5 separate regions of the Homo sapiens genome follow, and regions 2, 3, 4 and 5 are each linked to region 1. Evidence: fine-mapped expression QTL. A gene starts in region 1. Each other region holds a variant in brackets. All regions are shown on one strand. Distances are from middle to middle.

The links.
Region 2: its variant is fine-mapped to the expression of WASF1 in whole blood (INTERVAL, PIP above 0.99).
Region 3: its variant is fine-mapped to the expression of WASF1 in synovium (Steinberg 2020, PIP 0.95).
Region 4: its variant is fine-mapped to the expression of WASF1 in spleen (GTEx, PIP 0.97).
Region 5: its variant is fine-mapped to the expression of WASF1 in pancreas (GTEx, PIP above 0.99).

Annotation. Positions count from the first base shown.
Region 1 is chr6:110,177,502-110,182,609 of GRCh38, forward strand. It overlaps WASF1 (WASP family member 1), which reads right to left and starts at 2,169. Exons shown (of 11, transcript NM_003931.3): 1 at 1,938-2,169; 2 at 1,097-1,241. It overlaps CDC40 (cell division cycle 40), which reads left to right and starts at 2,926. Exons shown (of 15, transcript NM_015891.3): 1 at 2,926-3,132. The coding sequence starts at 2,944. RefSeq lists silencers at 1,529-1,848, 2,089-2,198.
Region 2 is chr6:110,110,048-110,115,155 of GRCh38, forward strand. It overlaps WASF1 (WASP family member 1), which reads right to left. Exons shown (of 11, transcript NM_003931.3): 5 at 3,279-3,413. Among named protein-coding and RNA genes, the nearest start is that of WASF1, 67 kb to the right of the region's middle. The variant C/CAA (reference allele first, on the strand shown) is at 2,847.
Region 3 is chr6:109,180,384-109,185,491 of GRCh38, forward strand. It overlaps the pseudogene CCDC162P. Among named protein-coding and RNA genes, the nearest start is that of CEP57L1, 87 kb to the left of the region's middle. The variant C/T (reference allele first, on the strand shown) is at 2,500.
Region 4 is chr6:109,971,621-109,976,728 of GRCh38, forward strand. No RefSeq gene overlaps it. Among named protein-coding and RNA genes, the nearest start is that of GPR6, 4.1 kb to the right of the region's middle. The variant A/G (reference allele first, on the strand shown) is at 2,478.
Region 5 is chr6:110,386,670-110,391,777 of GRCh38, forward strand. It overlaps a transcript of DDO not described here. Among named protein-coding and RNA genes, the nearest start is that of DDO, 26 kb to the right of the region's middle. The variant G/A (reference allele first, on the strand shown) is at 3,153.

The DNA of each region.
Region 1 (5,108 bases):
TAATCATTCATCAGCTAAAAGATTTAAATTTTCTTTAAAAGGACTACAAAAACACACCTTTCCTGAATTTATGCACACTACCTACTAAATATTATCTCCATTTACATATAAGGAAACCAAGGCACAAAGGTGTCCATTTTGTAAATTGCAAGGTCATTTCCTAACCAAGCAACTAATCCTACACCATCAACTTATATTATATGTACGCCACTTCCAAGTGCCATAAAACAATTACTATACCTTAAAACTGCCTCTGCAATGCTTATGTGATTCTCTTTTATCAAAAGGGTAAATGCAACAAGCTTAAACAAGGAAAGATGGAAAAGGAAAATTATAAAAATACAACACTTACTTTTTATAGTGAATCATTTATTTTTAAATAATGAGATGTAAACAGTTTTTAACATAAAAATCAAGTAACCAACAGTGGTTTCTTATATTTGCAAAAAAAAAAAAATTTCATCCTTCAGGTAGATCACGCAAAACTGAAGCCTACTCATACTTGTAGATTCAAGTTAGAAAAAAAAAAACTGGATTCTAAAACAAGTAATTAAATACATGATATTGCAAAGAAAAAAGTGAATAAAAAATAAAATCAGATAAATTAGGGAATGACTGATATGATGGTTAAAATCCTCATCTTAAATATTAAATCCTTCCATTCAATGGAAGGCAACGATTAGTAATGACATATTCTGCTACCGAAAAACAAATACAAAACTTTTCTTATTCAAAACTTCCGAAATTTTATATCAAATACTTCATTCAAATATTCAATATAAACAAAAATGTTTCCTAACAGAAACTTAGAGCATAAAGGATAAACTGTTCCTGAGAGTTCAAATTGAGACTGCATTTCTAATTATGATATAATGCTATGAACAATCAGAAAAATGAATGTTACCTACCATGCAAATTTAAATTTAAGAACATTAGACGGATTGAATAACCAATAAGTCAATTACATCAATTAGTGAACAGAAAAAAGACCTTAGCTAATCGTGAATCTAACACCAAAGAAAAAATTTAAGTCGAATCCACCGCACATCTTATTACATAGAAAAGGAAATGATTAGAGTAAGTCGTATTTAAGTACCTAGTCTAGCTGGGGATCAATTAATTAATCGGTTATAGGGCAGGACGTGAATGTTGAGATCGGATGTGCTTTCTTTCATCGTTATTCCAGTTCATCATCCGCAAGTGCAAGAGAAGGTGTCAGAGTACCGAAGCTAGGGGGCATGCTGTAGCAAGGGGAAAAGAAAAATGGGAAAGGTGCAATGGATGCTGCATAGTTGAATAATTATCTGGGTGGCACAATGGGCGAGTCCTGCCGACATGAGCGCTGAGTGAGCGGCTCCGTAACTCTGCCCAAGGCAGCCCCCATGAACAGGCACCAGAAGCGACAGCACCGCTTCGCCTCCCCTTCCAACGAAGAAAAGGATGCCCGCACTCGCTTTACCGTTATGTTTTCAGACACCGACTCGCGGAGCAAACACGCAAACGCACGAGCTCGCTTTACCGAGCCTCGCGCACGTAGGGCGAGCAGGGGATTCTCTGTCGCCCGGGGCTACCGCCTCCCCCGGAAAGAGGCACGGGGCGGACCGCGGGCGCGGGTGGGCAGGGAAGCCCGGGCGGTGGCACCTCAGGTGACACCCACAGTCTCTCCAGCGAGAGCAGCCCCGGGGCGGTCCCTGCAGCCAAGCCCCAGGCGCGCCCGCCGCCGTCTCCCTCGGCACCCAGCCCCGCTGGCGGGTGGGCGGTGGGCGCTCGGAAAACCCGCGGATGGGGGTGGGGGCCGGGGCGGGGAAGGCGCGCCCATCCATCCCCGTCACCTTTGCGGGCCACACACCACTCGGTCTGCTCCGGCCAGTAAGGAAGAGTTCCTCTCCCAACACCCCCTCCCCGAAAAAAGCAATTCCTCAGGGACTCGCGCTCACCGTGAAATCTTGGGGGCTCACGCCTTACCCCTTCTTCATGCTTCGGCAGCGGTCGCCGGTCCCCCTCGGCTCGCGGGACTCCGCCTAGAGCCCCCAGGAGGGTCGGGCTCTGGGGCGGAACCCGCTCAGGGCAGCGGCCCAGGCGCCAGGCCACAGGGAACGCCGCCTGGGGCGCCAACCCGCCGCCGGACCCACCGTGTGCTCGACGCGCGAGTGAACAACACCGCGAGCTGCCGTTCCCCCCGCCCCCTCCCCGCGCGAGACGCTCCACAACCGGGCGCAGGGACCCGCGCCAGAAGCAGGGGGGACCGCGAGACTCTTTCCGCCTATGGTCCCATCCTTGCCCCCCGCCCCAGGAGCTATTCCTGGCCAGTCAGAGGTCTCAAAACTTCAGATTCTCACTTTCCTCTTCAGCCTCCAGTGCCCAGGTGCAGCCGAGGTGGGAAATCCAGCCTCCGCCCACTCCCCCATTAGTGGGGCCGAAGCTCGCTCTTCCCCCCTTTCCTGAGGTTCTGTGGTATTGCCCAATCCTCAGTTTGGGGGAGGGGGACGAAGAGAACACTGCTTGGCTAGGGAATGAGGGAAGATGATAGCCAATTGAATGGAACATCCATTCGGGGGCGGGGTCAAAGGGGGACACGCCCCCGTTCCGCCCCCTCGTTGCAAACTACACTTCCCATTGTGCCCTCTCGCGCTTCCTGCCGCGCTGCACGCTGGGAGTGCAGGACCGCGAGGCCTCAAGGTATTTTGGAACTCATATTCTTTAGTCAACTAGGTCCTAAATGTTATAAACTATTATAATTCTCCCTTTTTCCCTAGATAAACTTTTTTAAGCTCTCAGCTCGACAGTAGTTATTCTAATAATAATTAGCTTATTGTTTCAAAATGTAAGACATTATTTCTTAGCAAAGAAAGTTAATGATGTGTTCCATTGCAATCTGTCAGGACCTGGGAGCCTCTTCTTCTTCCGCCCTGGCAGGGTCTCCGCAGAAGATTTGTTGCCGTCATGTCGGCTGCGATTGCAGCTCTGGCCGCTTCCTATGGTTCGGGTTCAGGGTCCGAATCGGACTCGGACAGTGAGAGCAGTCGGTGTCCGCTGCCAGCCGCCGACTCCCTCATGCACTTGACTAAATCGCCTTCATCAAAGCCGTCTCTAGCAGTGGCAGTGGACTCGGCTCCGGAGGTGGCAGTTAAGGTAAGCACTTTTGCTACTAATGCAGTGTGGGAATTGTTGGCTTCAGCTCCAGAACTGCCAGCCGCTTGTTAGGTACCGGGTTACCTCTTTCTCAGTGCTCAGAGATAAGTTGCTAACGTTTGAATTTCTTCTCCTTCCCACATGCATCCTCGGGAGAGGCAGAATTGGAAGTTCGGAATAGCCCTCCGATGCTCTCTGCCCTTGCCTCCCGCCATCAGAAAGCAAGTGGAAGGAGGGGATGAAATTTGAATTTGTGGATTAGGGACATAGCCTGGAAAGTGCAGGTGTAATCTCGGAACATAAGTGAAATTAGATCAGGACTTCCCAAACTAGAGTATTGTGTGAGCAGTGGCCTCGATTTGTCTTATTTTTGAAGAACTAGGTTCTAATCCTGGCACCACCACTTGTGTGAACTTGGACAAGTTATGCAGCCTCCTTTCTTTCCTCACCTGTACAGTGGAGATCATTTTCAAAACATCTGTCTACATGAAAAGATGAGTGTGAAAATTGAGTGAAATTACACAAATAAAGCATATAGCACAGAGCCAACTAGTGAGAGTGCAGTAAATGTTTTATGATTGTGTGTGTTAATACAGTGAGAAAAAGGCCTTGGATTTGAGAAACAGCTGCATGATCTCAATGGAGGAAGCTGATTAATAAGGCAAGAGTTTCCAGGCAGAGGTGACAGGCAAGCCTGAGAACGCAAAGAGCCTAGTGGGTTTGAAGAACTGAGGAAAAGCTGATGTGTCTGGAGCCTGATGAGAGCATCTACCAATTGGTAGTGTAGGCCCAGTAGAGCCCGAGGTAGGTGATCAGCTCAAGATGTGAAGAGGGGAGGCGGTGTCCAAAAATTCCTTTGTATCATGTCCCCAAGTCTAGTTTAATGACTTAAGAAGTGTTTTACAGGTTTTTAACAAGCTGTATGTGAATTTTACTTTTTAAAAATGGACATCTGTCATGAAAGAATGCTTAGAATCCTCCTAACTTCCTATCAAAACAAAACTTTCCAAACTTAAGCCCCTCCAGTAACCTCCTGAGTCTTCTCCTTTCACAGCTCAGCTTTTTGGAGCTCTCTTTTTGTCTTCGTCTCATTTTCTCCTCAACCCAATGCAGTCTGGCCCTATCCTCTTGGGAAACTACTGTCTGTGAGTGATGTCCCAGGCCTTCCAGTTGTCAAGTTCAGCCATCTGACTTAAATGTCTGCATCAAATGACACTGTTCATTAGTTCCTCTTTCTTGAAACTTTCTCTCCGTTTCGCTTCCATGGGGCTCTACTCAGCATTCTGTTCCAATTATTTTACTCTCCCTTTTCAATACTGGTGTTTCCCAGGACTCTGCTCTTAGTCCTCTTTGCATTCCACATATTCTCCCATACCTTCAACCTCAGGCTGTGCTGCTTCTAGCTCAAGGTGAACACCGTGAAATGGTTAGCACAGGCTCTGGAATTAAGACTGTAATTCAAATCCTGCCTCCAGCACTTACCCACCTGGGGACCTTGGATAAGTTACTTAAATGCTCTGTACCTAATTTTTGCTGATCTGTAAAGTAGGAATAACAGTAGTACCTATCTAACAGAATTATAATAATTGTCATAAAAGATGTAAAGCCCTTTTAACAGTGCCACACACAATGAACACTAATTAAATGCTTGCTATCCTTTTATTTCCAGTTCTATCCTCCTTGCTAGCTTACGATCTTGAGAGGTATATAAAAATCTCCCACAGTAATTGTACATTTGTCTTTTGCAGGTTGGCGCTCAGCCACCTCCAATTCAGTGTGTCGAAAAATTATTTTCTTTCCCTCAAAATCCACTTCTGTTTTTCCTATTTTGATCTGTCATCCCACAATCCACCCACTAGTTGAAGCCGAGAACAAAGAAGGTATCCTTTTCTCTTCCTTCTTCCTCAGCCCCTGAAGCTAGTCATTCAATTGATTCTAACATTGCTGTTTCATTAATTTCTCTCACATCAACTCCT
Region 2 (5,108 bases), 67 kb before region 1:
AATAAAATTCAGAGAAGCAAAAAGTTTTTCCCCACTATCACTAAAAAGTGGCACTGGAGATACAGTATTTAATGAGTACATACTATATGTGCTAGATGGTTTCACTAAATTTCATTTCATTTAATCTTTACAATTCAGTAAGACAGGAATTATTACTCCATTGTGAAATATAAGAAAGCTAAGGCTAGGAAATAGTATATAACTGACCTGAGGTTAAACAGTTAATAAACAGCAGAGCCAGAACAGAAAAGTCAGATCTGTCTACCTTTGAGGCTAATCTTTTTGCCACAATACCACACGCTGTTCTCAGGCTCCTGCCAGAAGTGGGTTGTGTTTTCTGCAGTCAAAGTGGATCAATTCTTGCCACTCTCCTGCCCCACTTATTAATCAATAAGTATGTAATTAAGATGAAACCTAGTGTTTAATCTCGCCAAACTTCCTTGGTAAAGGATGTAAGAAACATGTAAACTAATAAGCATGATGTACTTTTCTATCTTCAACTCCTCTCATTTATCGTTTGTCTTATTATTAACAGACTATTGTGGTGAAGCTCCTTCCACTTGCCAACAATAACATCTGATATTAATAAAATAGAATTATAAAGCAATAAATTAGCATAATGCTTATAAACATAATTGACTTAAATATAATTGTACAAGTCTTTGTTTAAAATTCATTTAAAAAATATTTTCAAAATTGATAGTTTTTAGTTACTACAAAACGGTTAAAAAAACTGATACCACACTGTGCTATTTAGTACTGTACACATGATGTTTTTTTTTTAATTCCCACTGAATTAAAAAACCTAGGTTAAATAACTGAAAACTCCTTCAATACAACCTCTCCAAAACAATTTCAAATTAAGTAGTTCAGCTTTTAGATTCTGAATTCTTCCCCCACTGCTCCACAAAATTTTAAAGGAAACTAGGTATAATTCTGACAGTATAGCTGTTGACATATTAAAATTTGTTTTTTAACACAAACATCTTAATTTATTTACTGTTATCTGTATTTTCACTTTCAAGTTTAATGGTGGCTCTAAGACATTTGTTAAAATGTAACAATATTTTGAAACTAAATGTTGATTTTTATTTCTGTTACATATGAGAACTGCCTGTGTATTTCTCTATTATTTGATGGCATAAATTTATATTTAAGTGATAAGCAGTTGAGTTATCTGAAAAACAAATTTTGGCTATAAATTATGTATTTGAAAGCATGACCATAAAATATTTTTCACCACTAACAATGATTTTATTTCAAGAATTCCATGAGGTGTAATTAATGTATTGATACATGCACATGTTTCAAAGGATACCACCAAGAAAGACAACCTAAAGAAGGGGAGAAAATATTTGCAAATCATATATTTGATAAAGGATTTAGATCCAGAATATACACAGAATTCCAACAAGTCAAAAATAAAAACACGAATAATACAAATTATAAATGGGCTAAGGAATTAAATAGACATTTCTCCAAAGGAGATATTCAAATGGCCTGTAAGCACATGAAAACATACTCAACATCATTAGCCATCAGGGAGATATAAATACATGCTATATGAATGAACCTTGAAAACATTATGCTAAAAGAAGCCAGTCACAAAAGACCACATACTGTACTATTCATTCATATGAAATATCCATACAGACAGATCCATACAGACAAATCCATAGAGGCAAATCCATACAGACAGAAAGATCAGTGATTGCTAGGGGTTGAGCTGAAGGGGAAACAGAGTGACTGCTAATGAGTACAGGGCTTCTTTCTGGAGTGATACAAATACTCTAAAATTGATTGTGGTGACGGTTGCATAACTTGAATATACTAAAAAACACTGAATTGTACACTTCAACTTTAAATGGGTGAACTGCAAGGTATACGTAGGTTGTGAAATATATCTTAATAAAGCTATTTTTTAAGTATTATTTCCTTTTCTTCTTGTATCCAGAGCTCTGAGTTTACATTTTACAAGTGGTACAAATCTAGTATGCCAAGTATTTGCCTCTCCTTATTTACACATTGGATTATTTCAAAAGTAGCTGGTTCCATCACTAAGACATCTATCATTACATTATATTTTTGTTCTTTCCACTGACATCCTTTAGTATTTTTATTGTTAAAGTTTAGATCTATTATATAATTTGCATTTATACTAAAAATTAGATCTATCATATAATTTGTGTTTATACTATTTAATGCAACAAAAATATTTTGAAGAGAGTGTAAGAAATTCCATTAAACAATTCTCTGTGGTAGGTAAGTGCAAATTATGTTCTTAGTATTGCATTTCTTTTTGTGAAACAAACAAAAAGATGCATTTGGGAAACGTCGGCATTCAATGTATTCTATCAAGGCATAAAACATGATTTTACCACCGAAGTTTCTACAATTATTTTAGCCTATCTGATTATTCCTGATTTAATATCTTGGTATAGAATGTTTACACCCTACATACTGGCAATTTGTTTTTGAAATGTTCATTTAAAGTAGGAAGTTGCATTCAGTTAAATAACTAATAAGACTTTAGCAATATGCACATACAAAAGCATATTAAAAGCAGTTACATAGCCAGGTGTAGTGGCTCATGCCTATAATCCCAACACTTTGGGAGGCCGAGGTGGGCAGATCACAAGGTCAGGAGTTCGAGACCAGCCGGACCAACATGGTGAAACCCCATCTCTACTAAAAATAAAAAAATTAGCCAGGCGTGGTGGCAGACACCTGTAATCCCAGCTACTCAGGAGGCTGAGGCAGGAGAATTGCTTGAACCTGGGAGGTGGAGGTTGCAGTGAGCCGAGATTGCGCCACTGCACTCCAGCCTAGTGACAGAGTGTCTGTCT[C/CAA]AAAAAAAAAAAAAAACAAAAAAAAAACCAGTTACATTCTTGTAGAATCAAACCTAAAGATTTCAGGTAATTTTCTAATAATTTTTATTTCTAAGACAAAAGTATACAAATAAATTATAAGGGAGAAATGAAAAGAGAAAGATAATGAAGAGAATGGAGGAAAATGTCTGGTTAAAATGACTTCTTTATGCAAAAAAATTAGGAGCTGTTTAGTGTACAAAAAGAAGAGATTTAAAACAGAGTAGAAAAGAAAAGCCCGGAGAATCATACTGATGGCATTTTTAGATAATTCACTGATTTATTACAATATGTACACCAAAGGACATGGGTATGATCTGTAATAAATTCATGATTAATACTGTTAAGTATATCATTCATCTCATCTAACTTAAAATATATACGTAGAAGAAAATACAATATTAATAAGCTTACATTCTTCTTCCTTTGGATCAAGCTGTGTAACACTAACAGATAAACGGTCCACACGTTCTTGCAATGAGTTGACTCTGAAGGAAAAACTATGTGCTTCATTGAATAATTCTCCAAATATATCTTCAGCATATTTACCTAAGCAAAAATGACACATATATCATAAAATTTAACATCCAGAGCACTGAGTTTTTATCTTTGCAAGCAGTAGAAATCTAGCATGATATTTGCCCTCAGATACTTTGTGATCAGAGATAAATAATGAACAATGTAATATTACAACTGGTGACCTGTTGAATTTGGAATTTATTTGGAATTACAGTTGACCCTTGAACAAAATCGTTTAACTGTAATAGTCCACTTACATGTGGATTTTTTTCAATAAATACATTGAAAATTTTGGAGATTTGAGACAATTTGAAAAAACTTGCAGATGAACCACATAGCCTAAAAATACTAAAAATTTTAAAGTATATTTTAAAGATATGAATGCATAAAATCTATGTAAATACTAGACTATTTTATCATTTACTACCACAAAATATACAGAAATTATAAAAAGTTAAAATTTATCAAAATTTACACACAAAACAAAAACATACATAGTGCCATTCACAGTCAAGAGAAATATAAAGAAATGGAAAGATATATTAGGTTGGTGCAAATGTAATTGCAGTTTTTGCCAACCTAATAGTACTAAATCATAACAATAAATTTAAGTGTAATACTGTATTACTGTAACAATTTTATAGCCACCCTCTGTTGATACTGCAGTTAGCTCTAGTGTTGTTACTATCCACTTAAAATGCTGTTTGAGCAGTTCTCTCTCCACTAAATTGCATATAAGAGTAGGAAGTAATCTCTCATGGTTCTTGTGTATTTTCCATCATGTTTTATGCAATACTGTAAACCTTGAATACATTGTGAGACTCATTCAAAGTGCCACCAGTGATGCTGGAAGTACTCTCAAGTACAAGAAAGTCATAACACTACAAGATAAAGTTGAATTGCTTGATATGAACCCCAGATTGAGGTCTACAGCTGTGGTTGCTTAGCATTTCAAGATAAATGAATCAAACTTAAGGGCAATTATAAAAAAAGAAAAGGAAAATCATGAAGCCATTGCTGCAGATACACCAGCAGACACAAAAACCTTGTACTTTTTGCGAATACCTTTTAATCTTGTATCAAAATGCAATTTTTGTGGGTGCATGGCTGTTACAAGAAAGCATACATACAGACTCTAACATGATTTGAGAAAAAGTGAAGTCCATATATGACAACTTAAAGCAAAAGGAAGGCAAAGGATCTAAACCTGGAAAATTTAATGGCAGTAAAGGATGCTTTGATACTTTCAGGAAGAGGTTTGGCCTCAAAAATGTCACAAGAGAAGCTGCAGCTTTTGTCAGCCAAGAGGCAGCAGATGAGTTCCCAGATGCCATTAAGAAAATAATTAGTTTCCATGTATGCTGCTTGAAAAAAAAAAAAAAATTGGCCAGGCATGACAGTCTGTAATCCTAGCACTTTGAAAGGCTGAGGTGGGCAGACTGCTTGAGCTCAGGAGTTTGAGACCAGCCTGAACAACATGGTGAAACCCCGTCTCAACCAAAAATACAGAAATTAGCTGGGCACGATGGTATGTGCCTGTAGTCCCAGCTACTTGGGGAGGTGAGGCAGGAGGATCACTTGAGCCTAGGAGGTCGAGGCTATTGTGAGTCGTGATCATGCCACTGTACTCCAGCCCAGCCTGGGTGACAAAGTGAGACCTTCTCTCTCTCTCTCAAAGAAAAAAAAAAAAACAAAACAGAAAAGAAAAAGAAAAAAATTGAGTAG
Region 3 (5,108 bases), 1.0 Mb before region 1:
AGCCTCTCAGCAAACTAGAAGTAGAAGCAGGTTATTCAACTCAGACTATCAAATATATTTATCTCATGTCCCCTATGTTCTATAGACACAATGAAGGGAAAACACTAATGTGTTTATCTGAACAATGCCTAGGGGATGATGAAGCAGACTTGGAAGGAACCCGGGCCGTTGAGTGCCCATTTAGTAGTGGGGCTGCTCTACAACCCCAGACCATTTACATTAGCACCATTAGGTTAGAGAGATTTAAAAGATCTTTTTTCTTTGATTGATTGATTGATTGATTGATTGGAGACAGAGCCTCACTCTGTCACCCAAACTGGAGTAGAGTGGTGCTCACTGCAACCTCAGCCTCCTGGGTTCAAGCCATTCTGCCTCAGCCTCCTAAGTAGCTGGGATCACAGGTGTATGCCACCATGCCTGGCTAGTTTTTGTATTTTTAGTAGAGGTGGGGTTTCACCATGTTGGCCAGGCTGGTCTCGAACTCCTGGCCTCAAGTGATCCACCCACCTCAGCCTCCCAAAGTGCTGGGATTATAGGCATGAGTTTGTTCTTTTAGCCACTGGTGATGGTGTCTTTTTGTTACAATGGCTTAGCCACACCCCTACTAATGCAGAAGCTGGCATGTAATGTATTTCATTTGAAAGCATAGATGATTTGAAAGCATTTGATGATCAAGATGACTACGTATCAAAAATGTTTACCCAACAAGGTTACAGAGTATCTATCTGTGCAGATCAATAAAGAGAATTGGATTAGCCCACAGTGATATGGGACCAGTATGCTTATCAGTTTAAATTCTGGCATTTGCTAGAATAAAAATAATTGTTTTATTTTGGTACATATCACATTATCAAGTTTTGGGAGCCTTTAAAACACTTGAAGCTGTGCTGATTTATGTATTTTGATGAGCTTAACTATTTACATTTATTATAATTACTGTTACATTTGAACTTAATTCTGCCATACTTCTTTTTGTTCCCCCCCACCACCACTTTTCTTACCTTCTATTGCAGGGGTCCCCAGTCCCCAGGCCATGGACCAGTACTCATCAGTGGCCTGTTAGGAACTGGGCCACACAGCAGGAGGTGAGCACAGGCAAGCAAGCATTACCACCTGAGCTTCCTCTGGTCAGATCAGTAGCAGCATTTGGAGTCTCATAGGAGCATGAACCCTATTGTGAATGGTTCATGTGAGGGATCTAGGTTGCGTGCTCCTTGTGAGAATCTAGCTAATGCTTGATGATCTGAGGTGGAGCAGTTTCATCCTGAAACCATCCCTCTGCCTGGCCACCTGCTGCTTCCCATCCATGGAAAAATTGTCTTCCATGAAACCAATCCCTGTTGCCAAAAAGGTTGGGGACCACCGTTTATTGGATTTAAAAGTCCTATCTCACCCCTTACTCCCACTTCTTTGGGAAGCTCTAGGATACATTTCTTTTTTTTTTTTTAATAGGTACGGATATTTTTATTTTATTTTTATTTTTTCCTATTTTTTATTATACTTTAAGTTCTAGGGTACATGTGCACAACGTGCAGGTTTGTTACATATGTATACATGTGCCATGTTGGTGTGCTGCACCCATTAGCTCATCATTTACATTAGGTATATCTCCTAATGCTATCCCTCCCCACTCCCCTCATCCTATGACAGGCCCTGGTGTGTGAAGTTCCCCACCCTGTGTCCAAGTGTTCTCATTGTTCAATTCCCACCTACGAGTGAGAACATGCAGTGTTTGGTTTTCTGTCCTTGCGATAGTTTGCTCAGAATGACGGTTTCTAGCTTCATCCATGTCCCTACAAATGACATGAACTCATCTAGATGCATTTCTATTCTTTTACTCATCACCTTGAAACTTTTAAAATAGTTACTCAGTATTTCTTTTCTAAACGTGTCTGCTTTATCCCCATCCAAGCCTGCTGTAACCACACATTGAACACCCCCAAACCTTGCTCAAGCTGATCTTACTATTTTTGTCTTAAATTTTAACCACGTTTTAAATGCATAAAAATTATGTATTATACATAATTATGAATTACAAATAATTAAATGTACTTATTTTTAAAAACATGATTGAAGAAATTCTCTTTTCTCGCAATCTCTTTTCTAAGACTAAATGAGTTCCCAGTGCTTGCCTGACACACGGTAGGTTCTCAATAAATGAAGCACACCTCCCATACCCCTCCAAATAAACAGTTGTCTCTTTAAACCTAGACATGAGTGCTCAGCAGGCATGTATTTCTCTGGGTTGGATTCATTTCATGGACAGTTGTCAAAGACTGACCCCTTTATGTTAATTTTCTGAATACTGTGCTTGACTGTGTTGCAAGCTAAACAGTACAGGATTAAATGTTCTCATTTCTGAGCTGTGAAGTGTTGAAACTGATCAAGAAATGAAGGCAGAATGTCCGTCCTTTGGGAGAATAATCAGCCAGTCTATGTTGCTGCCACTCTTGGCTGCCGATTGGAATGCAGCTGTTAAGGCAGCTGTTTAACTGTTTG[C/T]CCAACTTGAAAGGACACTGCCAAATGGCAAATATTTTCTATAACAACATTTTACTTTTGCTAAGAACAATAACAGTGCATTTTATTGAGCTCCAATGGCGTGCCAAACACGACAGATTTATTACTAGGCAGGTTCACAACCTGGACTGAACATGGATGCTCATTTCCATTTTTCATATATTTAGAAAAAGAATAAATGGGCTCCCAAAGGAAGCCTCTACACAAAACATCTCTACAGCTTAATTATTTGTTGAAATGACAGCATATTAACTTGAGAAAATGAAATATCTCAAAAGGAAAGATGAGAGTCTAGAAATATCACAGGAAAAAAATAAGGTTTAAGTATTTTAAATCTCTCTAATGTGGCCTAAGAGAGACTTAACTCATACTTGTCCAGGACAGGTGAGGGCAGCAGTAACACAAGGAAATACATCATCTGTTGAATCCCCTGCAACTTATGGGTCCCAGGACTTCTGAGTCATGCAGTTAATCTACATTGTTAATTAGAATGTTGATACTAAGTACTTAACAAACAATTATGTTGAATTTGACAGACTGTGAACCAGGTGAGGTGGGGTGGGAGGTTATCAGCTGTTATTTAATGGTAAAACCGGTATGCTAAATGTAGGCAGTCAAAATTAAGAAAACACATTCAAATGCGGAAGTACAATTTTCTATTAGAAGTCAGCAATAACTGCCATTCACAGAAGTTACTGTGTAATCCCCACAAACATTTATCAAGACTGCAGAGGTGAGGGGTGGTGGGGGGTGCATTCTCACTTATTAAACCCCACAGCCAAAGCTGAAGCAGAGATGTTTTTGAAGGTGAACTGGGCTAATCAAAGGCATGGCCAGTGGAGATTCTAACCTACTTTTTCTCTACTGTTTACTAGATGTTAATTAAATCACAAATGACAACAGTCTAATAGCAAAATGCATGCATTTCTACAAAGTTGACATGATTTCTTGGACAAAGATAGACAAAGTTCAACATGCTGGATAATGGTCACTGAGGGCATCAAGATTTGTGATCCTCTTTTTCAGGGATACAGAAAAACAGCAAATACAAATCATGGATGAAATTTATAAGATCACTTCCACAGAAAGGGTCCAGCTGTTGGAGAAAAAACTGGCTGTGCAACTGACTGAACTGAAGTCTGAGATAGAAGAGCAGGGAGCTCTTCAGGGAACAGCTAATCGAGTTTACAGGTAAATAGTGGCACTGAGAAGGTGTGATCTTCAGGGGCTTTACTCCCCACTCTCACTCCGTAATCTACATCAGCACCCTCTCTTCTTTTTACATAGACAATTGGCATTATCTCCAGTTCAGATAAATAGTATATAATAGCAGTTTCAGGTACCCATTTCTAACCTGATTGCTACCTCTAAGATTTTTCTATATTCTAGATTTGTTAAGACAGATCCAAGCAAAAGTCTTACCAAGGAAAATGTAAGTGTTTTTACATGTTAATTAATGCTATTGTCTTGAAGTTACAGGAGCTATAATACAAATCATACTCAATGAAAGGAGATCTCATTTTACCCAATAATATTTTAATTGAATTTGACTTTGATGTTGGTGAGAAATTTAAAAGCTGAAATAATGGTAGGCACTTAGTAATACATTATGCAAAACAATGTTCTGTGAGTGTTATCAGCACTCTGGATTCTTGCTGTCTCCCAGGATAGAAATCAAGAGAGATCACCAAACAGAGCAGCAGCAAAGGTAAGTGTATTCAGGTTGTGCACAAGGGAGCCAGCACCAAGAAAGGAAAAGGAAAGAGATGCTCTCCAAGGGTAGTGTGTGCGTTAGTTTTATAGCATCCTTTGATAGAGAAGGGTTACATCAGGGCACATATGGCGGGGTGCGGGGGGTGTGGTTTCTAGTGCTCATACAGTGGCTCAACATGCTTCTTCATACATCAAATGTAGCATTAGCATTTTAAATCTCCACCCAAGGCATTATTCTTAGCACAAAAATGAGGAAGGGGTAACTATAGGTTGAGTTTTAGTTCTAACTGCACCTGTGGGGCTTTGTGGAAGTCTCTATCCCCCCAAAGTAGGAACTTGCTGTTAATAACTCCTTGGGTCTTTTGTTACTGATTTGCTGAGAGTTAGGTAAGCTAGGGCTTGAGTAGGGGCTTCTGTTCTCCTCTAGAGCAGATCACAACAGGAAGCCAGCCAGCCTGTTTCATTAGGAGCTCTTCTATAGGTAAGTGCTGCCAACAACAGCAATCAAGTTATTGTAGAGAAACAAGAGACACAGATCAGCCCCTAATGGCAAGTCTCATGGACCCAGGACCTTCATATCCCTGTTTCTGATACTGCCACAACTGATCAAAAGGAGCAATATAAGAACCCTGTTAGGTTGAATCATTGAGAAAACACAATGTGGATGGTGAGAGGTTTGGAGAGGTCAGAAGATGCAGTAAGCAGGTGAATTAGTACTTCATTCCAAAGACAATTCTGAAGAACCAGCATTTCATATGTTTTTTAATTAGTATTTAAAACCATTAGGTGTCTGAAGCAAATCAGATTGTGTGATGAGATGGAAAGATCATGGAACCATGCAAGTCATAATTTCTCTCAATTTTGGTTTCTTTATTTGA
Region 4 (5,108 bases), 210 kb before region 1:
TTGTCTCTGAATACAGACAATATTTTGGTGTCATTTTCTAGCACGATGTATAGCATATAGTTAGCACTCAATAAATGCTTATTGAATCAATGACTAGGCAAAGTATAAAAACATAATTACAATGCAACATAGAAAAGGTTGACAATAAAGAGCTGGGTGTGGTGGGGCATGCTTGTAATCCCAGCTACTCAGGAGGCTGAGGCAGGAAGAACACTTGAGCCAGGAGTTTGAGTCTAGCCTAGGCAACATAGCGAGACCCCATCTCTATAAAAAAGAAAAGAAAAGAAAGAAAAGGAAAGAAAACTATTAACAACATGCCATTTATTACTAAGTGAAAATTTGAATTGTAAACTGTATGTATAGTACACTGCACACTATGCAATAAATCTACATGAAATATATATACATGTGGATAAATTTTGGAAATAATCATTCAAGAGACATTTATTTAGCACCTACTTTGTGCCAGATAATAGTAATGGAAAGATTAATTAGAATTGATCCATCCTCTCAAAAAGTCTACAGTCTTGGGGTGGTGGTGGGGGTGAAGCAATCTTGTTTAGCTGATGGGAATATTGGGAAATGATTTTCTTTCAAAATTCTCTTTAATTGTTCAAAGCAATACATTTAAAAAACAGCTTGCAAACAGAAAACAGTCTATCAAATGCTGCTCATAGTAATACTGAAGTTATAAAATTCAACCTCCATTATCTTGGATCCATCTATCCACAGTAAATCCTCTATGAGTTTTTGAGTCTGCCTACACACTGTTGCACACTTTGATCCATATTTGTTTTTGCTTCCCCACAAGATTGTCAGTCTCATGAACACAATGGATTTGTCTGATTAAACAGGTGCTGGGCAGCCCCTAACTGGCTTAATTTTGCTATCTAGTTTAAGGGTGGCCTTTCTTTTCATACAAAGCAGAAACATTGGGGTAAGGTGGGGTAGGGAAAAGTCTATGCTAGAAATGGAGAGGAACCTTTTTTGAATTACTCAACCCCAAGCCCCTGCTCACCTGCCCTTCAGGGAAACTGAGGGGAGCTGAGAACTGTGGCAAGGGGAGGCACCTTTCCTACCACATGGGGAAGCCCTGACCACATGCCCAGTGTCCTGGAGGCCAGAGTTGATGATAGTGCTGCTCCATTTTGCATGGTTCATCAGGCCTCACTTGCCCTCTTGGCCCAGACAGGGACAGAAAGAGAGGCAAACCTGCTACTGGGGGCCTGATGGCCATGCCAGGGAAGGGTGAGGGAGAGGACCATCCTGTTCTTTCCATCAACAGCTCCAGGACCTGTCATGGTCCCTGGCAAATGGCAGCCCTTAGTGAGTATGACGCTGGTGAAATGAACCAGATCAAGGCTCAAGTCTCCTGCTAGTGCCCTGTGTAACTGTGGACAACTTCACCTCTCTGAACCTCAGTTATCCCACCTGCAAAGATCATAACTTCAAACTCCATGTAATTGTCTCGAAGAATAAAATGAAATAGTACGGAAGGAGCTTCAAAGCACTTTGAACATGTAGGGTCTATTTGAGGATGCAGGGTGGGAGGAAGGGGAGGAGCAGAAAAGACAACTATTGAGTCCTGGGCTTAACACCAGAGTGATAAAATAATTTGTACAACAAACCCTGTGATAGGAGTTTACACATGTCACAAACCTTCACATATACCCCCGAACCTTTTTTTTTGAAAAAGAGAGAGAGAGAGAGAGAGACTCCAGCCTAGGTGACCCAGTAAGACTCTCTCTTTCTCAAAAAAAAAAAAAAAAAAAAAAGGTGGGGGGAGCCAGAGACCTTAACAGACACCTCACCAAAGAGATATCCTCATGGTACATATGCATCTGAAAGGATGCTCCACATTACATGTTATCAGGGAAATACAGATTAAAACACAAAAAGAGAGAGAGAGAGAGAAAAGAAAATGGGGGGCATGGCAGGTTGGAAGACTGCCTCTGTGTTCATTTTCAAATACACTAATTAATAGAAACAACTTTCTCATTAACATTCTCATAATCAGTAAAGTTGGTGCTCTAAGTTGTAATAGTATACATTCCTTCATAAACTCAATAAAGTTATTTTCACTCTTTATGAAAAAAATACATATGCCTTTAAATGTTATGATTTATTTCTCATGCAAAATAATGTTCATTAAGTGAATTAAACCCCAAATCTCAACTTTCCTGCAGTGTTCTGCATCCTGTGGACATGTGATGATAATAATGGTGCTTTGCTCCTTATCTAAATTTGTGGGGAACATTAATTGATGCTGAGCTTCCAGGATAGAAGCCCTTTGGAGTGGGGACTGCCCACCTGGCATGAGGGAGGTAGGAACATCCCCGATGTGTCTGGACATGCTGAAGAAGTAGGTACCATAGAGCACTGATGCCTGAGGATGAGGGGCACCCCTGGGGACAAGCAGAAACAGAAAGAAAGGAGATATTTTTAATAGAATTCATCTTCCTCAGCATGTGTCCCCA[A/G]AAGATTACACTCCATCCAACACCATGGATCTGGACAAACAATGTAGTGTATTCAGTGGCCCTTTGTGATTTCTGTCTCTTGTAGCAACAATCTTTCTTAATAAACAGCTTCATACATCTCACCAAGCACTTGCTGTCTTCCTGAGATGTCAGCACAAGCACCTGGATACCACCAGATAGACTTACACTTCCCAGTTGAACACTATACTGCTTATCCCCAAGAATCAAGAACAGGGAGCGTGTGTGTGTGTGTGTGTGTGTGTGTGTGTTTGTGTGTGTGTGTATGCGCATGCAGATGCCCAGAGAGAGAGAAAGAAAGAGACAGAGAGACCAGAATTTCTTGCCAGTGTGGGTCTTTTCAACGTAGTTTTGTAAGGTTCTGGACAGCTTGGCTGGCTGCAGTCCTGATATTATGAAACAGAATTGATTTGCAAGGATTTGAGCCAGGAGAGGGCACACCTGGGAGGCAGCTGTGAGATCAGCCAGAGCAAGGGTGCAAATGCTGAGGTATCTTGAAACCTACAGCAGAATAAAGGGTTGGGACAACCTGAACCAGAGCCAGAGTTTAGTGCTCCCTAATGGGGCTATTGAATTCATCAGGGCCAAGAGAGAACCATGTGCCAGCCTTTATCTTGAGAGAGGAAGGAGGTTCTGTGTGTATATGGAAAATTAAAGGTCTGCAGAGGAGATGTAGTGAATGTGTTAAACCTGAAATTACACAATGATTTAGAGCTGGATTCTCACTGAAATTTCTTTATTGCAACTATTCCAAAAAGATATCCACTATTTCAGGAGTTTCACTACACACTAAACTGACAAAGGGATTGTTTAGATGAGTGTTCTCAACCCTGAGTTTTCTTTCGGGTCTTTAGAAAATACCCACTCCAGACAAAATGAATCAGAATTTCTGGGTGAGGGATCCAAAGATGGGTAGTTTTAAAAACCCTTCCATGTAATTCTAATATGCAGCCAGGATTGAGAACTGCTGGCTTAGGCTGAGATGGGAATGAGATATCAAAGGAAGCTAGAGAAAGAAAGATTGTGGTTGAAAGGCTCTGATTCCTGGGCTTAGCCTCAGACAAGAAAAGTGTCCTCATGTTTATGCTTAAATAGTGCTAGAACAGAAAGAAGCAAGGCACCTCAGCCTGTGATAAGTTGGTCAAAGGGTTGGCAATAATGAATTTAATCTGTGACTACCAATCAGAAGCCAAACTCTGAAGACCCCAAAACATAAACAAAACCAGACAAGCTGGTGGATGAATAATACATTTGGTTGTATGTTTCAGTCAATGATCAAGGATTCACAGAATAGAAACCATTCAAGGTAGCGCAAGATTAGGAAGGTTTGTGGTAGAGACCCAAAATGTAATTTCAAGGCATCAAGGGATTTGGGCTCCCAGAGCCAGGAACCAGACACTCAGGGACTGAGGTCACTCCTTTCACCTCTTGGTCATTTGATCTTCTTCATCTCTGTTCCTCTTCACACATCTGCTTCATTCTTCCAGAGCAGTTGGCTTTCTCTGATTAAACACTTCACACAAGGTCCAACACACAAGTGGTTCAGCTCTAATTTATCACTGTCTTTCATGTCCAGAGCCCAACACTGACTCACCGTTGTTAACGTGTTTCTTAGTTCAAATTTTCAACAGAAAAGGATCTGGTCACTAGCCCAGCAAAGGATGGCTGATCGTATCTAGCTTCAGTTGAGGTGTCAATCTCCTCCCATATACTAGGGTATGTGTGGAAAATTTCATGTAGTTTACAGGCTGAACACTTTAGGAGACCATTGGAAGGGCAGGTGCTTATATAGTAGCTATAGGCAAGGCAAGTAAAGAAGTCCATCTAATTTCCATCCATAACTGATGAAACAGACATATTTTGCTTTCCCATCTTCTACCTTCCAAAATATGGGTGGATATAGGGGAGATAAGGAGGAGTTTGAAAGAACATGCTCTGTCTGCCCAGGACCTAGTCTAGCATCCAAAAGAGGTAACCACAGATTGGCATCACTCAAAGTCAGTCTACATATCCTCAACCATCATTTATGTACATGATTCTACATGTGTTGTCTTCCTCTGGAAATCACTGAGAAATCCATTCTTGGTAATGTTGAAGCCTAAGGATATTCAGAGATCCTGTGGTAGGTTCAATTTTAACCTCATACTTTCTGCTACATTGTGGCATGTGAAAATGGAACATACTTAGATATTAAGGAGGATTCTCCTCCCCTTGGGCTTTTATCTGATCATTTGGAAAATCCTCAGTTAACATGCTGTTACAGTGGTTTGACGGCTCACTTGACAGCTCTGAAATAACATTCTTGACTCTTAGATGACAATCTTGTACCGAAACACAAAACGGCTCTTTTCAGAAATTTAGAACTTCAGCCAAGTTTTGGGTTCAAGAAAATAGTGGTGTGTGGATTTTTTTAAGCTCTCCAAATGGATAAATTGTGTGTAAACTCACTTTCTGTCCAACATCAGCTATTGCACCAAATAATTGAACTGTCATATGTCCCTTGTTCTTGTAATTAAGTTGGCTGCATTGAGGCAGGAATAGTCTGGACTTGGGGGTCATGTTTAAAGGCAGCAACCTAGGGTAAACTTATCCTCCAACCCATGGACAGTCTGA
Region 5 (5,108 bases), 210 kb after region 1:
ACTAGTGTAGGGGCCAAGGGAAATTTTCCTCTTCACCCTCTAAAAGTTCACTGAAAATCAACTGATCAAAGGCAGATTAATAGGAGAAAAGGCATACAAATTTCTTAACATGCACAAGGGTGAATTAGAGTGAGTCCCCATGATCCAATGGGGTACAGATGGTTCTATACCCTTCTTCTTAGGGGAAAGGAAGATGGGGAAGTGTGGATGATTTTAGGGGAGTTGTAAATGATTTTTAGGGGAATTCAGTGGGTTTAAAGAACATATAATGGCCTGGGACAAAGTTGGTTGGGTCTGCTTAGCAGACAATGGTTTGGGACAGAAGTCTGTCCAGGTGTGTTGACAGACTTCAGTCTTTCTTCCTGTCATATGAGTTCAGTTCATGAAAACTCAGGGAAGGTACCAGAGGTAACTGATTTTTTTCTTTGGTGGTTTGGACTTCAGGCAGATAATGGAACTTCAGAGAACAGCTGCATCCTGTACTTTGGGAGAGACAGGATTGGGGTAGAGAAGGTCAGACAGACCTTGAGACTTCTTCAGTTCAGCATGTCAATGTGCCATATTCTGGGGTTTCAGTTTCAGAGCCCAAACACTGACCTAACTCAATTTATAGTTTGATACTTTTGCAGAGCCTACTAAAACCTTGACTTTTACATTGCCACCAAGACAAAAGACTACATTCCCGGCTTCCCTTGAATCTCAGTGTAACCCTGAGGCTAAATCCTATGAAGTGAAATACAAGCAAAGGTGTTATGTGAACCTTCTGGGAACTGTCCTTGGAGAGTGGATATAATGATGTGCTGGAGCTCTGACTGCCATCTTGGATGTGAGCACAAGGGCCACACCCTTGAAATAGCATAGTATGAGCTGGAAGGAGCCTGGATCACTGATGACCATTGGAGACCTCACAACAGCCCTAAACTGCCTGTATCTAGGCTTCTTTTATGTGAGTGAAATACATGACCACCTTGTTTAAGCAAATATTTAGGGGGTTTCTGTTACCTGCAATGGGGCCTAAACCTGACAGTTTCCTCTGCTCCAATAAGCTGTAACCAGAGAGGTAGGGCCTGAGGGATACTGCCCACACAGTGAATCTTCCAGGTCTGAGCAGATTTCCCAGGAAAGGAGTCCTGGGCAGAGCAAAAAGACCATGTGGAGTTTCAACCACACTGGTTGAGTTCCATTGACAGACGACTTGGATCTGCAAGGAAGAGAAATACCGGGATACATGAAAAATTGGGTCCTGGGCTCATACCATAGAATGTGCACCAGTATAAAAAAAATTATAATTCAAGGGGAACAGGCTCTGGGAGGTGGAATTGTGGGAATCATGGCTGCAGGCCAGGTTGACAGGTGCCTTGAGTAGATGGAAGTCAATTGTTCTGCTAATAATTGAAGAAGCATTGGTTATATTTATAAGAGATCTGGCTAATGCATTCCCTTTGGCTACTTAGGGCTGTGATTTATTGGCAGCAAAGTTACTTAGAATAATAAAACCCCCAGGCCTTGTGGCAAACTGCTGAGATTTTTCAAGAAGAAAGGGACCACTTAAAGATCTCAATTGGCTTTTCTTGAGTGAATGATATCCTGAGGAAGCAGGTTTCAAATGTGTCTCCATCATTCACACCCTTAAGAAGAAAAACGAGAGAAATAAAAAAAATGCTACATTTATTTCAAATATTTGACAAGTTACGAAAGTCCTGAAACAGGTTTCTAAGAACTACAACTCCCAGTGGACACATGTTCCACCATCCTTTTCTTCCTTTTTTCTAAAAGCTTTTAATTGATTGAGAAAAACCGGTTCAAATATCAGTTGATTTGAATGCATTATTCAATAAAAGGAAGAATATATGTCATTTTTAAAAATAGCCTTTCTTCTATACAACTGTGTCCACCTGGGCTATGGCCTTTCTGTTAAACTTTTTTTTTTCTTCCTAAGCAAATAAAATCCCAAAAGTTAAAAAAAAAATCCTAAAACTTTGTGCATAACCTTTGCCTGCTGAAGAAGCACACGCTGGCAATGACAGGGCTCAAAGCAGCCTCGTTCCTCTGGGTCACAGACACAGCAGGCAGACACTCAGCCACAAAGGCCAGACACTTGAAAGCAGAGATTTAAGAAGGAAATCAGTTGTTCTTCATGTTCAGAAAAAAATAAAAGATGTTCTGAAATAGAAAACAAGAAAGAAAAAATAAAGCAGTCTATTCTCAGGCAGTAGCACCGATTACCCAGGAAGACCTCAACTTATATAAACATTGAAATCTTTGAAGTAAATGAAGATAAGCTGTGATGGTTAATTTTATGTGTCAAATGGACTGAGCTAAGGGTGCCTAGCTAGCTGGCAACACATTATTTCTGGGTGTATATATGAGGATATCTTTGGGAGAGATAAGCATTTGAATCAGTAAGCTAAGTAAAGAAGATTATCTTCACCAATGTGAGTGGACATCATCCAATCTGTTGAAGGCCTGAATAGAAGAAAAAGGTGAGGAAGGACAAATTTGCTCTCTGCTTGAGCTAGGACATCTGTCTTCTCCTGTCCCTGGATTTCAGCACTGTGGCCTTCAGACTTACTCCACTGGCTCCTCTGGGTTTCGGGCATTCAGGCTTGGACTAGAACTGCATCAGCTCTCCTGGGCCTCCAGCTTACAGACAGCAGATCATGGGATTTCTCAGCCTCCATAATTGTGTGAGCCAACACTCATAAGAAATTTCTTTCTATATGTCTACATATGTCCCACTGGTTCTGTTTATCTGGAGAACCCTGACTAATATACCAGTCAAATGAGAAATGCAAAGGCTATTTCTTTAGATTTTACTATAGCAAGGGAGTCAGCCCATCACACTTACATTTGGCAGAGATTCAAAGGTAGGCAGAGGGGTGAGAAAGCTTCACAACAGAAAAAAGAGAAGACTTCACATATGTCCTGATAGGCATGGGGACACTGTAGGCAAGTTAACTAGAAGCAAAGCATCCTATATGGTTGGTCCTAAGTTAGAAGTGGGGGCAAGCATATTTTTTTTCTCTGATTTGTTCTAAGTTAGAGGTGGGGGCAAAAATTAGGGATGCTGTCAATTATTAATCAAGTCCTGGCCATTTTGTGTGAATTGTTACAGAAGTTATTGTTTATCTTTCTGGATTATTTCTAGAGAT[G/A]GCAATATGGCTTCCTGCAAGTCTGATATACTTGTGTAGCAGGCTGGCTTCCTGTGTTGTTTATTGTAGATAAGGGAATTGGTTTCCTGGGCAGGTTGCTGCAGCTTGTGGGCCAGAGTTCTATTTTTATATGTGGTCTAGCCATTGTCCATTTGTACATTCAGTCTGTTGTCTTTCAGATAAAGACAGATAGCTGTCTTGGAGCAGCTGACTGATAGCCAGCAAGGTGATTCCAGTATTTCTAGAGAGCTATTTTGGGACAGCTAATTCCTCTAGGCCACCTTGCCCAGAAGTGCCTAAGGACACACTTGCCTAAGTGAGCACATCCCTCTGAGCTCGATGCCCCAAGATGGCGAGGAAGGAAGGGAAGGATAATGGTGACGCTAGCAGTGGGGGCCTAGAAGGAGGGGAGGGAAGTAGTGCTCAGTGGTTCTCAGCCCTGGCTCTCAGAACTTTGTGGACAGCTTTAAGTAAACACTGATGCAGCAGCTCCGCCCCACCCACCAAAGATTCTAATTTCATAAAGCAGGCCTGGGCATCAACATTGTTTAAAAACTTCCCAGGTGATTCTAAGTTGCAGCCCAGGTTGGCAGCTACTGACCAAAATGAATAATGTTTCAGAGACACTGGGAACAATATTTAGCAATTAGTGAAAATGAAATCAGGGCATGCAGCCACAACCACTTTCTCAAGAAGCCTCCAGTCTTGCACTCTTGTAGCATTGCACTTTAGAAATATAAAACGCAGAGTGAAGCTGAACTAGAGTAACAAATAGGCAAAGGTCATAGAAGGTGAGCCCACAACACACAATAAAAATGCCACAGGATCTGAACCACAGGCATAGTGAACAAAGGAGTACACTTAAAGCTGCTTCGAAATGACTGAAATTCTACCTATTCTGAACAGTGGCCTTCATTTTTATTTTTAACTATTAAAAAATTATTTCCTCCTTTAAAAAATGCTGTTTTATCATAACCTTTTATTTCTCACAGATTATGTATGATGCATATGTGTTTCCAGTCTGTCTAAACTTATACATTTCTCAAATACTTAAAACAGAATTCAGAAGAGTTGCACTTGGAGTATATAAACTCCAAAACCTCAAAAGAAGCACGCACACTCTATATACCTGGTATCCATCTTTCATTTCTAGTCATTTCTAAATTTTTGAATGTACCAATGTATCTGAATCTGATACAACACCACCCCCTGGTGGAAATCTATAGAAAAGAGCCCACACTTGATTTTACTTGAGAATGTTAATACTGCAAGGAATGATTATGACTGCATAAAACACTGGTGGGCTTCTCTCACTGTCTACCAGCAGAATGTTCTCTGCAAACAAAATCATATGCAAGTTCTGAATGAACGCAACAGTAAAGCTGTAGCTGTGCTAAGAGCTTTCTCTTTCCCACACTTTCATTGGCAACCCTGTATCTCACTCAGGATGTCCAAAATATAACTTACTGTATCATTTAACAGAAGTCGTCTTCCCCAAATATTAAAATTAAATCCATTTCTCCTCAAGCCTTTTTTTTTTTTTTTTGAGACGGAGTCTTGCTCTGTCACCCAGGCTGGAGTGTAATGGTGCGATCTCAGCTCACTGCAACCTCCGTCTCCCGGGTTCAAGTAGCTTCCCGAGTAGCTGAGATTACAGGCACCCACCATCATGCCCAGCTAATTTTTGTATTTTTATAGAGACGAGCTTTCACCATGTTGGCCAGGCTTGTCTTGAACTCCTGAACTCAAGTGATCCACCTACCTCAGCCTCCCAAAGTGCTGGGATTGCACCAAAGTACTGGGATTGCAGGCGTGAGCCACCGTGCCCAGCCTCCTCAAGCCTCTTTACTTCAATACCAGCACTTCATTTTCCGTCCACCCAAGCTCTCTAGAGGATTCACAATACACGTGCACACATTAGAGGCTCTGAGTAGGCCTGAGTCAAAAAACAGGTTA